2 separate regions of the Homo sapiens genome follow, and region 1 is linked to region 2. The links come from fine-mapping of genetic effects on gene expression. A gene starts in region 2. The other region holds a variant in brackets. All regions are shown on one strand. Distances are between the middles of the regions.

Evidence for each region.
Region 1: its variant is fine-mapped to the expression of ADGRG1 in whole blood (TOPMed, PIP above 0.99).

Annotation. Positions count from the first base shown.
Region 1 is chr16:57,604,939-57,609,938 of GRCh38, reverse strand. It overlaps LOC105371291 (a long non-coding RNA gene), which reads left to right and starts at 2,917. Exons shown (of 4, transcript XR_933627.4): 1 at 2,917-3,211. It also overlaps the pseudogene HMGB3P32. RefSeq lists an enhancer at 1-92. The variant A/C (reference allele first, on the strand shown) is at 2,953.
Region 2 is chr16:57,625,525-57,631,045 of GRCh38, reverse strand. It overlaps ADGRG1 (adhesion G protein-coupled receptor G1), which reads right to left and starts at 2,416. Exons shown (of 14, transcript NM_201525.4): 1 at 2,244-2,416. RefSeq lists a silencer at 2,305-2,374 and enhancers at 1,924-2,579, 2,580-3,235.

The sequences.
Region 1 (5,000 bases), 21 kb after region 2:
TGCAATCAAAACAAAACCAAATCAAACCCACAAGTATCTAGGTACATAATGTATATAAATAGAATCTGAAACCAAATGTTGGACTGTAGTGGGGGTGCATAGGGCTGCTCCCCAGCTGTCACAGCTGGCCCCAAAGCACGCCATACTCGGAGGCATAGCTTTAGAAGAGCTGACAGGAGACGCAGTGGTGCCTCCCTGAGGTTACGCCAAGTCATGCCAGAACTAACACCCGAGCAGGCAGCTCTGGCTGCTGAAGAAAGAGAGGGCAGGTGGGCGCAGCTCCTAAGACAGAGAAGGTGTTTTTGTTTCCGGCACAGCCCGACACAGAATGGCTCAGGTCCACCTCTGCAGCTTGACACAGATTCTATTTGCCATGCAGACTGATCTCAGCAATTTGGGGCTGCTGTGGCCCCACAGGGAGGAAACCGAGCTGCATCGCACAGAAGGGTCAGCCACATCCCCCAGTTGCATGGGGATAAAGCCCTCTGCTTTTCCACTTGTCTCTGAATTCCTGTCCCAGGAATTAGGATTTCTTGTGCAGGCTGGAATGAGCAAAATACTTAGGGTGTAACATTTAAGGAGGTGCCCACCGTCAGTGCCAATGGCCCTGCACCTCACTTTAATCTTCATGTGATTCTATTAGGCAATCTCTATTATTATCCCATTTCGTTGTCCAAAAAAGGAAAAAAAAAAAAAAAAGAAAGGAAGAAAAAAAGAAAAAGAATAAGGCTCAGAGAGCTGATGTTACTTGCCCTGAAAAGTGACAGAGCCAAAATTCAAACCCAGACCCATCAGATTCCAGCACCTAATGGCTTAACCATTGGGCCATCCTTTCTCCTGAGTACATGGGCACCCAGGTGATCCTCAAGTGACCAGTGCGGCAGAAAATACGCTGAGGCTGAGTGTGCAGGCGGCAGCTGCAGTCCCAGCTCTGTCCAGGCTCACCGGGTGACCTTGGGCAAGTCTCTTTTTTTCTCTGTGCCTCAATTTCCTTGTTTATAGAAGCTGGTGGCTATGCTGGGCCAAGAGTCACAAACTACAGTGCCCACAGCGGCCAGGCTGCAAAGCTAATGAGAGCAGGAAGGGGGCAGGGTGGGAGACAATAGGGAGTGGGGGGACCTGGGGTGAACTGGAGAGTATGGGCCACGCTGGGGAGCACTGCCCAGCTCCAGTGAACTGTCACTTGAGGAAATATGAGCCCCATGTGGCCTGATCCTTCAGTTTTTTCAAGGAAGCCAGAAATTTGAAATTAATGTGAAAATCTTAATTGTTATAAGTTGGGGATGAATTCAAATGGATTTAAAGCCTGTCATAAGCCAAACAAAGCCTATCTAAGGCTAGATCTCACCCTCGGGGCCTCCAGCAAGCAACCTCTAGATTCCATGTCAGAAGCTGTAAGTGTTCCTCAATATCCACCTCCCCTTTCTATACCAATAGAACCCCATATTTTCGCTGGGTTCATGGCCCCCTACAATAAAGACATTATTACCTAACATTCCTTGGAACTGGGTGGCCACATGACCAAGTTCTGAACAATAGGATGCAGCCATCAGTAAAGTCTGCAAATCTTGCATCATGCTCTTAAAAAAAAAAAAAGAGGTGCACCCTTTTGGAGGAGCAAAAAGGGAAGGGGTATGAGTGCCCAAAGTCCAGGAGCCACCACAGCCACCGTGCAGCCTGGTCCCTCGCATGGGATGGAAGTAAACGGCTTCTTGTTTATATGGGTTCTTACTCTTGAGTTTGTTACAGCAGCCAAAGTCATAACCTACCTAGCACAGGCTCTTTCAGGGATCTTCCTCAGGGCTCATAATTTTAAAGCCAGAAGGCTCCCACAATCCTCAATTCCCACCCCCATTCCTGACCATATACCTATTTTACAGATGGGGAGACCAAGGTTCAGAAAGGTGGAGAGTCTGTAACTTAATGAGTGAACAGCCTCTCTAAATGCAGACACAGCATAAATAGGACCCTTCTTCTACCCCAAATAAAGCTGCCAGGAGCTCATGTCTGGGAAAAGGGACTACAAGGGTGGGGACGGTGCCACCCGCATCCTCTCAGGGGCCACCGTGTGCTAGGCAAAGCCTTTCTTCACTGCTAGGGGCCCCTACAAGTCCCAGGCTTGCACCCCAACCCCGTGTTTCTTTGTTGTCTGCCCCCAGCCCGCAAGCCCATGTCTCTCTGGGCTGAAGAGGCCTTCAGGACATCCTTTTTTTTTTTTGAGATGGAGTCTCGCTCTGTCACCCAGGCTGGAGCGCAATGGTGCCATCTCAGCTCACTGCAACCTCCGCTTCCCAAGTTCCAGTGATTCTCCTGCCTCAGCTTCCCGAGTAGCTGGGATTACAGGCATGCGCCACCACGCCTGGCTAATTTTTGTATTTTCAGTAGAGACAGGGTTTCACCATGTTGACCATGCTGGTCTCAAACTCCTGACCTGAAGTGATCCGCCCGCCTATTCCTCCCAAAGTGCTGGGATAACAGGCATGAGCCACCATGCCTGGCCAGCACTGGTAATTTTTTAAAGCTCCTTCTACCCCTATACACCCCCACCCCCACACCCGCCCGATGGCCCCAGGCGACTGCAGGGTTGGGGCATGTGAGTCTGGTGGTTTCGCCCTAAGGGTCCTGGGTATCTGGTGCTCGGCACTTTGCCAGTCTCAGCCACTGGCTCAGCCTTTCCCCTGGAGATATAGAGGCTATGGGGGCAGTGATCTGGAAGGCCAGCTGTGTAGAAGTCCCTGAGGGTCAAAGTCTAGGTCTGGCAGTGTTGGAGAATAAAACCCTTGGCTGGCCAAACACTGGGAGGCTGCACCTGCTGCTCTGCAAATATGCCTGCCCCTGCCTGAGCAGGAGGCCTCAGCCAGCCCTCAGCAGGAACCCAGCCAGGGCCACCCACCCCAGCCATGCTAAGCCTCTGCCAGAGTGAGAGAGGCCCGCGTGGGCCAGGGGTGGCAC[A/C]AGAGTCACTCTCAGGGTGGGCCAAAGGGTATCACAGAGACAGCCCGGCCCTGGAGCCATGCAGACCAGGAGCCGGGTGCCACCTCCAACACCAACTCACAGTGACTTTGGGCAAGTCCTTTTTTTGTCTTGAACCTCAGTGGGCCTAGTCTTGGCAACTGTGCAGTCGAGTGTCCAGCCCAGGGTCTAGACCAGAGCCAGTGGCAGCAAACAGCCCTGTTATCAAGAAGCAACATAACAAGAAGAAAGGAGAAAAAAGGTAAGCTGATTTTTCCTTTTCTGAGTGTTTGCAGAAGTCAACAGATAATGTCCAAGGTTAATAAATCAGGAAATGGCAGTAGAAGCATGTTATTTATGGCTCTGGAGGTAACTGCCACATGAGCTCGAACTATTAGAAGTGGTTGCCTCTGGGGAGGGGGCTTGCAGGAAATGGGCTTTTCACTATAAGTCCTTTTTACCAGTTCGTGTTTTTTAATGTCTATTTAGAAGTATTTATTAAAAAGTGACTCTGCCCCTCCACTCTTGATTTTCCAGGTCATCCCTGTTAACAGAAGTATTTTTGGCCTATAAGGCCATGTATAGGGTTAAGTGCTCAGACTGTGGAGTTGGGCTGCCAGAGTTCAAATCCTTGCTCTGTAACTTACCAGCTGTGCCGCCTTGGGCAAATTACTTAACCACTCTGTTCCTGTTTTCTCATATGTAGAATGGGAGTAATAATAATTCAATGCTCCTGGTTTACACAGTAAACATTCAGTAATTGTGAGACATGATTATTATATATCCCTGTAACTCATATATGCAATTGTTTTACAAAAATAGAATTAGTATGCTATACACAGTGTTTGCAACTCGCTTTTCTTTCTCTTGCCAAGTTATAATGGATATCATTTCTGCTTAGAATGTATAGTTCCATCTCATTCTTTTTCATTAGTACAAGAATTCCATTGCATAGAATGTAAAATTATTTAGCCATAACCCTCTATTGAAGGAAATTAAGGGGTCCTATTTTTTAGTGTAATACACTTTGCAGTAATTAACATATATATTTTGGCACATGTGTGGCTATTTCTAAAGGAAAGATACCTAAAAGAGGGATTACTAGGTTATAGAATTGTGCAATTAAAAATTGTACAGATACTTGAGCCGGGGAGGTCAAGGCTGCAGTGAGCATGATGGCACCACTGCATTTCAGCCTGGGTGACAGAGCAAGACCCTGTCAAAAAAAAAAAAAAAAAGGTATAGACACTGCTAAATTGCCCCCTTAAAAAGTAGTACCAATTTAGAGTCCCACCATATCCATTCCAATGTGGAGGTGATCTCTCTAGATGGGCAAAAAATTGTTTTAGTGTGCCTATTGTAATTCTGAGTGGAACCGAGCATCTTTTCATAACTTCATCATCCATTTTTCTTTCTTCTCCTGTGAAACAAATGTTTATATCCTTTATCCAACTTAAAAAAAAGTAATACTGTTTATTTAACTTCAAAAACATTTCAGCATTCTAAACATACAAAAAAAATAACAGAATGTTGCAAATCGTGTTTAAGGACAGAAGGTTCCTGAATTTTCATTGCAGTGACTCTTTGCTTTAGTGACAATGAAGAGTTCTACAGTTTAAAAACCACCACACTTAACTAAAAAACAAAACAAAAACTAAACACTTCTCATGCCAGCTGACCCCCCCATCTTTGCCTTTAGCTAAGAATGGCAGCAGAAAGCTGTCACCACATACAGAAACAAGACAACTTGAAGCTAAATGAATGCCCACTGCACAGTGAACCGGTCCAGCGTCACGGTGCATGCCCTCAGCTATGGCCCCTCCAAAAGGCACCTTCCCCACAGCCTCAATGCCAGACAAGAAGCATCAAGAGCTTGCCTCAGTTGTTTTATTCTTTTTACAAACTATGGACATATACAGTTGATAACTCAGGATTTCTAGCCAATAACCATATAGTTAACACCATCTTACAAATTATAAAAATGCCAGAAACATGGTTTCTTTGTTTGTTTTGTTTTGTTTTGTTTTGTTTTGAGACGGAGTCTCACTCTG
Region 2 (5,521 bases):
TGCTGGGTTTGCAGCCTGGGCCCCCAGCCCCACACAGCACCTGCCTGGCGAGTCCTCCTGCCTCTCTTCCCCCCCACAGAGCAGATTGAGACCTGCTGGCCTGGCTCATCAAGTCCCATGAAATGACCCATGCCAGGGGTCCGGTATCACCCTCCCCGTGGTCCCCAGCTTGTATCGTTCCCCAAATGTTTTCCTAAGTAGTTTCCTCCACTAGGACTCCCCCTACAGTGCTCATACAGACATCAGTCCCTTCCCCTCCCACCTTCTCCCAAGCCCAGCCTAAGTGCCTTCCGCAGAGGCTCCCTGGTCCTCTTCCCCTTCTCTGGGCCCTCTGTTAGCAAGCTTATCTCACGCCTCCATCTCACCTCCTAACTGTTGTTTGTTTGTTTGTATCCCTGACAAAAGGAAGTGTCACACCAGGCTGACTGGCCCTTGCCCAGTGGCCCAGGCCGGGACACAGCCTGTCCGTCACAGATCACACCTGGAGCGGCGTTCTCCATCACCCGACACTCTCGGAGCCAAGCCCCAGGCCTACGGGAGCCAGGGCAGCTGTGATCACCCCTACACACCCATTTAGCAGCTGAGCTCCTGAGGCGAGAGGAGAGGAAGGGCAAGGGGGCCACAGTGATGCTGTGACCAAGGTGGGTGCATATCTCGGGTCCCTGCAGCAAAGAAGGGGTCAGGTCTGGCCCTAAGAGCTCATTCCACACCTGGACATTGGCAGGAAAGAGCCCAACAGGACCCCTGCCTGGGCTCTGGGGAGCCAACTTGGCAGCCCATGGTTATTAATGCCCAGATATGCTCCTTCTCACACAGTCTCTGACCCCAAGGAGCCAACAGGCTGCCCGGGGCTATCCTCTGGGAGGGGCAGGGGGCTTGGCTCTGGGTCTGGGCCACTCACGAGTTCTGAGATACCTTATTTGCCTCACCCACGGCCATGTTCCCGACAGAGCACAGAGTGCACAGTAAGCGCTCAATAAATGCTTCTATAAATAACTTTCTTGGTCCACTGAAGGAGCAACAAAGGCTATTCCTACACAGCCCGTGGACCCCAGGCTACAACTGCTCCACATTGGTGGGGGTGGGAGGCCCCTGCCTTGACCCATCCCCTCCTCCCTACGCAGTAAAATGAACATCAGACCTCTCCCAGTGGGGCACAGGGAGACCCCAACTCTACCACGCAGGGGAGGTGGGTTGGGGACGGGGGAGGACAGGAATCATTGGTTTCCTACACACTCCCAGCCCCCGCGGGGACCAGGGTGGGAAGTCCTATCAGTGCCAGGCAGATGGAGCCCTGAGGTCTGGTGGCAACGGGCAGGGTGTTCAGCCCGCAGCCTGCGCTTCCCCGTCTGCCTGTCACCGGTTCCAGGACTCTCACCCACGTGGCCCACGTTCAGAGACCCTGCGGGGCCACCTTCTCCCAAAGCTGGCCTTGGTGATGAAGAGCACGGCTGTCCCTTGCTCAGTGGGGACCCCGGACCCAGCCCCAGGGACAGCTGCAGGAAAGCTGTCCTCAGGAGTTCCCTCAAGTGCCACCCCCTCCCTGAGCCTGGCCCCTGGCTTTCTATACCTGGATGTGCTAGGTGACCTTGGGCAAGCCACCTGCCCTCCCAGAGCCTCGGTTCTCCCATCTGTGTAGTAGGAGCACTGATCTCACAGCCTAAAGAGCAGACCCCAGCTTGCTGGGCCCAGTGACTGTACCACTCTGAGCCTCAGTTTCTCCAGCAACAAAATGCCTGGGAGCCCCGGGAGGTGTCGCTCCCCTTGGGCCCCAGTCCCCTCCCAGGCATCTCCTTGTGGGTCCGCCCCCACTCTAGAGACCCACCCACAGCCATGCTGACCTGGACTAGATCCCACCAAGATACCAAGACCCCCCCATTTCCCCATTTCACCACCATCCCTACCCACTGTCCAACAGCCACCCGTGCACGGATGCACACATCCACACTTACACTCACATACACTCCCACACTCACACTCACACTCATACTCACACACACTCACTCACACTCTCACACTCAAACGCTCAGTCACACTCTCACACTCACACTCACATTCTCACTCACTCTCACACACTCACACTCACACACTCTCACACTCTCACGCTCACACTCACACTCACACTCACTCTCACACACTCACACTCACACACTCACACTCTCACACACTCACGCTCACACACTCACACTCTCACACTCACACTATTCCCCTTCCCACCTGCTGTCCAGCCCTTGTTTGGGTACCTGCTGCCAGGTGGAGGGTCCCACGCAGGGCCAGGCGGCTGGACCACCTTTCAGGATCCACCCCCAGAGGCTTAACCTGCCAGCCCTGGTCCCCGCTGCCTGCCGAGTGAGCTGGAGAGCGTGGGAGGCTCCCAGCCCATCTCCTACGGCAGGGCAGGGCAGACAGCTAGTGCGGAGAGGGAGGGACCGGGTTTGTTTGGTGGGGAGACACCCCTCTCCTGCCCCAGCTGGGCTCCTCCCTCCTCCCTGAGCTTGACTGGGGATGACGGACGATATATGTGAGTCATGGATTTCTCAGAGGGAGACCAGGAGGGGGCAGGGCTGAGAGCGCTGAGGCAGTGATCCTGGGGGATGCCCATGACTCAGCGCCGGGCAAGGGGGCACCTCAGCCTCACCCCTCATCCAGGCAGACAGTGTTCAGGGACAGGAAGGGGCCGGGGATCACTCTGCTTCCTCAGCCTCCATCTGTCGCCTCCCAGGGCCAGTCTCCCCAAAGTTCCCACAGAGAGGCCGGGGTTGCCACGGCAACAGGGCCCTTGGATGCTGTCCGCCCACCCCCCAGGTCAGGGCGACAACTGCCCTTTCCTGAAGGAGAGTCCAGCCTCCTTGGCAGCCGACGGGAGCCAGTGCTGACCGGCAGAGCGGAAGGCAGTCGGGAGGGAGCGGGTGACAGGCAGCCGGGCAGGAGGCCAGCCAGGCCACGCACGACTGACCGGCTGACCTGCGTCCCCCCGGGGGGTGACCCGTCTCCCCTCTCAGTGCTCCTCAAGCACCCACAGTTTCAACATCCCAAGTCATTTTGGATTCTGAGACCCCAGGGGCTTCTGGAAACGGCCTCCTTTAATCCATCTGCTGAGCCAAAGGGGAAACCGAGGCCTGGGTGAAGAGCCATTCCCAGTGGCCCCAAAAGCTCAGACAGAGAAGTGTGGAAATGGACCATGCCCCATCCCCCTTCTGGTCATTCCTCTGTCAGCAGCACCTCCCGCTGCTGGGGTTCAGTGCCCTTCTCGAGTCAGGAGGCTTTGGATAACTCACACTCCCTGCAGAGGCTCCTGTCTGCCCTCCTCCTCCGAGCAATGAGGATAGATGATTCCTCAGTCAGATGTGCTGGGAGGCTTTTACAATGCCAGAAGGGTGAGTGGTGACAATAACAGTAATTACACTCGCTGACCACCGTCTGCATTCCAGCTCCAGAGCGCCCCTGGCAGTGGAGAGAAGTCAAACCTGCTACTCAGACCAGTGCCTGGTACTTGCCAAGCCCTCAATAAATACTCCCTGTGAATGTGGTGATGAAGAAGAGGGAGCTTAAGGCAGATACATGTAGCTCAGAGATGAGAATTAACCTGCCCAAGATCACACAGCAGGGAGGTGCCCGAGTTGGGATGGCGGGAGCACAGGCCGTCTGGCTCCATAGCGGGTCTCCTAACCACTCAGCAATCCAGCACCCCAGGCCTCAGCCTGGGGCCTGGACACGTGGATGCTTGGGGAACTTGAGATTCCTTCTCTCCGGTAGAGATCTGCCTTCTAAACAAGGGGGCCAGGAAAAGCTTCCCCATGCCACGTGGAGGAAGAATGAATGGAACGTCTCGGGCAGCCTAGGAGCCAGGGCTGCTGCAGGTGAACTGCACTCCTCACCTACCTGCTTGAAATCAAGCTGCAGAAAGGAAGGGCCACAAAGCCACCCCGTGGGGTGCAGGGAGGCCATAAGGTGAGAGCTTCCAGAAAACGGCACTGTGCTTCCCACATTCACAGTCCCCAGTCCAGGCTGTGGGCCAATACCTGGGGCAGGGAGGCACAGTGGGGACTGGGCCCATGTCATACCCTCTGCTCTCTCCCGGGGCTGCAGTGGGAACTCCCTTATTGCCAAAGCAGCAGAGGCCAGCCTACACTGGGGGCCCACTAACAAGGGAGGACAAGTGAGTTATCTAGGGGAGGATGGGTTGTCCCTGACATACCACCACCTCTGCCTCAGTTTCCCCAAGGTCAGTCCTTCAGGGCCTGATCAACTGGTAACCCGGGCAGCCTCAGCTGTTCCCCAGGGACCAGGCCCACAGGGCAGCTGTCCCCCCACCACCACCACCACACACACACCCCACAGAGCGTGCTGACCAGAAGGGCACAGATGGAGAGTTGAAGGCACCACTCTCTCTGCAGATGGCTGAAGAGAGTGCGGAGCCAGCTGCCACTCTGGCCACATAGGAGAGGCTTATGGGGCTGCCTGGCTGGGCGGAGTTGGCTGCCCAGCTCTGCCTGCCTCTCTCACCGTCGGACTTTGCAGAGACCTACTATGAGCTAGGGGCAGGCAGGTGAGGAAGCAGGCCCCCAGCTCTGAGTCTGGCTAGAGAGACAAGCCTGGTTCTCATAGTAGCGATACCTGGAGTTGGTATTCAGCATCCAGGGGTCTCTGGGAGTAAAGGGGGAGAAATTCAATGACTTGTTAAACACAACACTATCTGTTATGAGTGCTGATAACAGGACTAATAATCACCTGCTATGTCTGGAGGTTTTATGGTGTAAGATGCTCTGCTTGTACAGATCATTCTCATTTTATCCACACAACCCTGTGGGTTGGGTACCACTTGTATGTTAGAGATGGTCAGAGACATGAAGTAACTTAGCCAAGGTCGCACAGCTTGGACCTGGCTGGGCCTCCAGGTGTGTGGGCTGTAACCAAACACGGGACACCAGATATCCGGCCCCTGCTAGGCACTTCATCTTCTCCTTCTGTTCTCACAACAGTCTATCCCCACTTTACAGAAGGGGAACCGAGGTACAGGGAGGGCTACCCACGCCTTTCTATAACAGCCAGGATCTGAACTAAGCGTGTAGACCCCAGAGCCCCTGCTGGGACCTGAAGGAGAAGAAGGGGGCTTCGATAAACAGAGACCAGCAGGAAGGGCACCCCAGGCAGAGGGAACAGCATTGGCTGAGGTGGAGAGGTAGGGCATGGAGCCATGCTTGGAAGGAAGTGGGATCTAACTGGGCAGCAAGGGGCAGATTCTGGAAGATTTTGAAAGTGTAGAGTTTGGGCTTAAATCAAAGGTACTGGGGAGCCAGAGAAGATGTTTGGGTAGGGAGAGGCCTGATTAGCCCTCAAAATGTGGTCTTCAGACCTACAGATAGCCTGAGACCTGCTGAATCTGAATGTGTATTTTAATAAGATGCCCAGGGGATTCCAGAATTGGAGGTGTGAGAAGCCCTGGTCTAGACGCCAGGGACTTGTACCAGCAATGATGCGGAGGGATGGGCAGAGGAGTAGAGGGGAAGTTGGGTCCGGA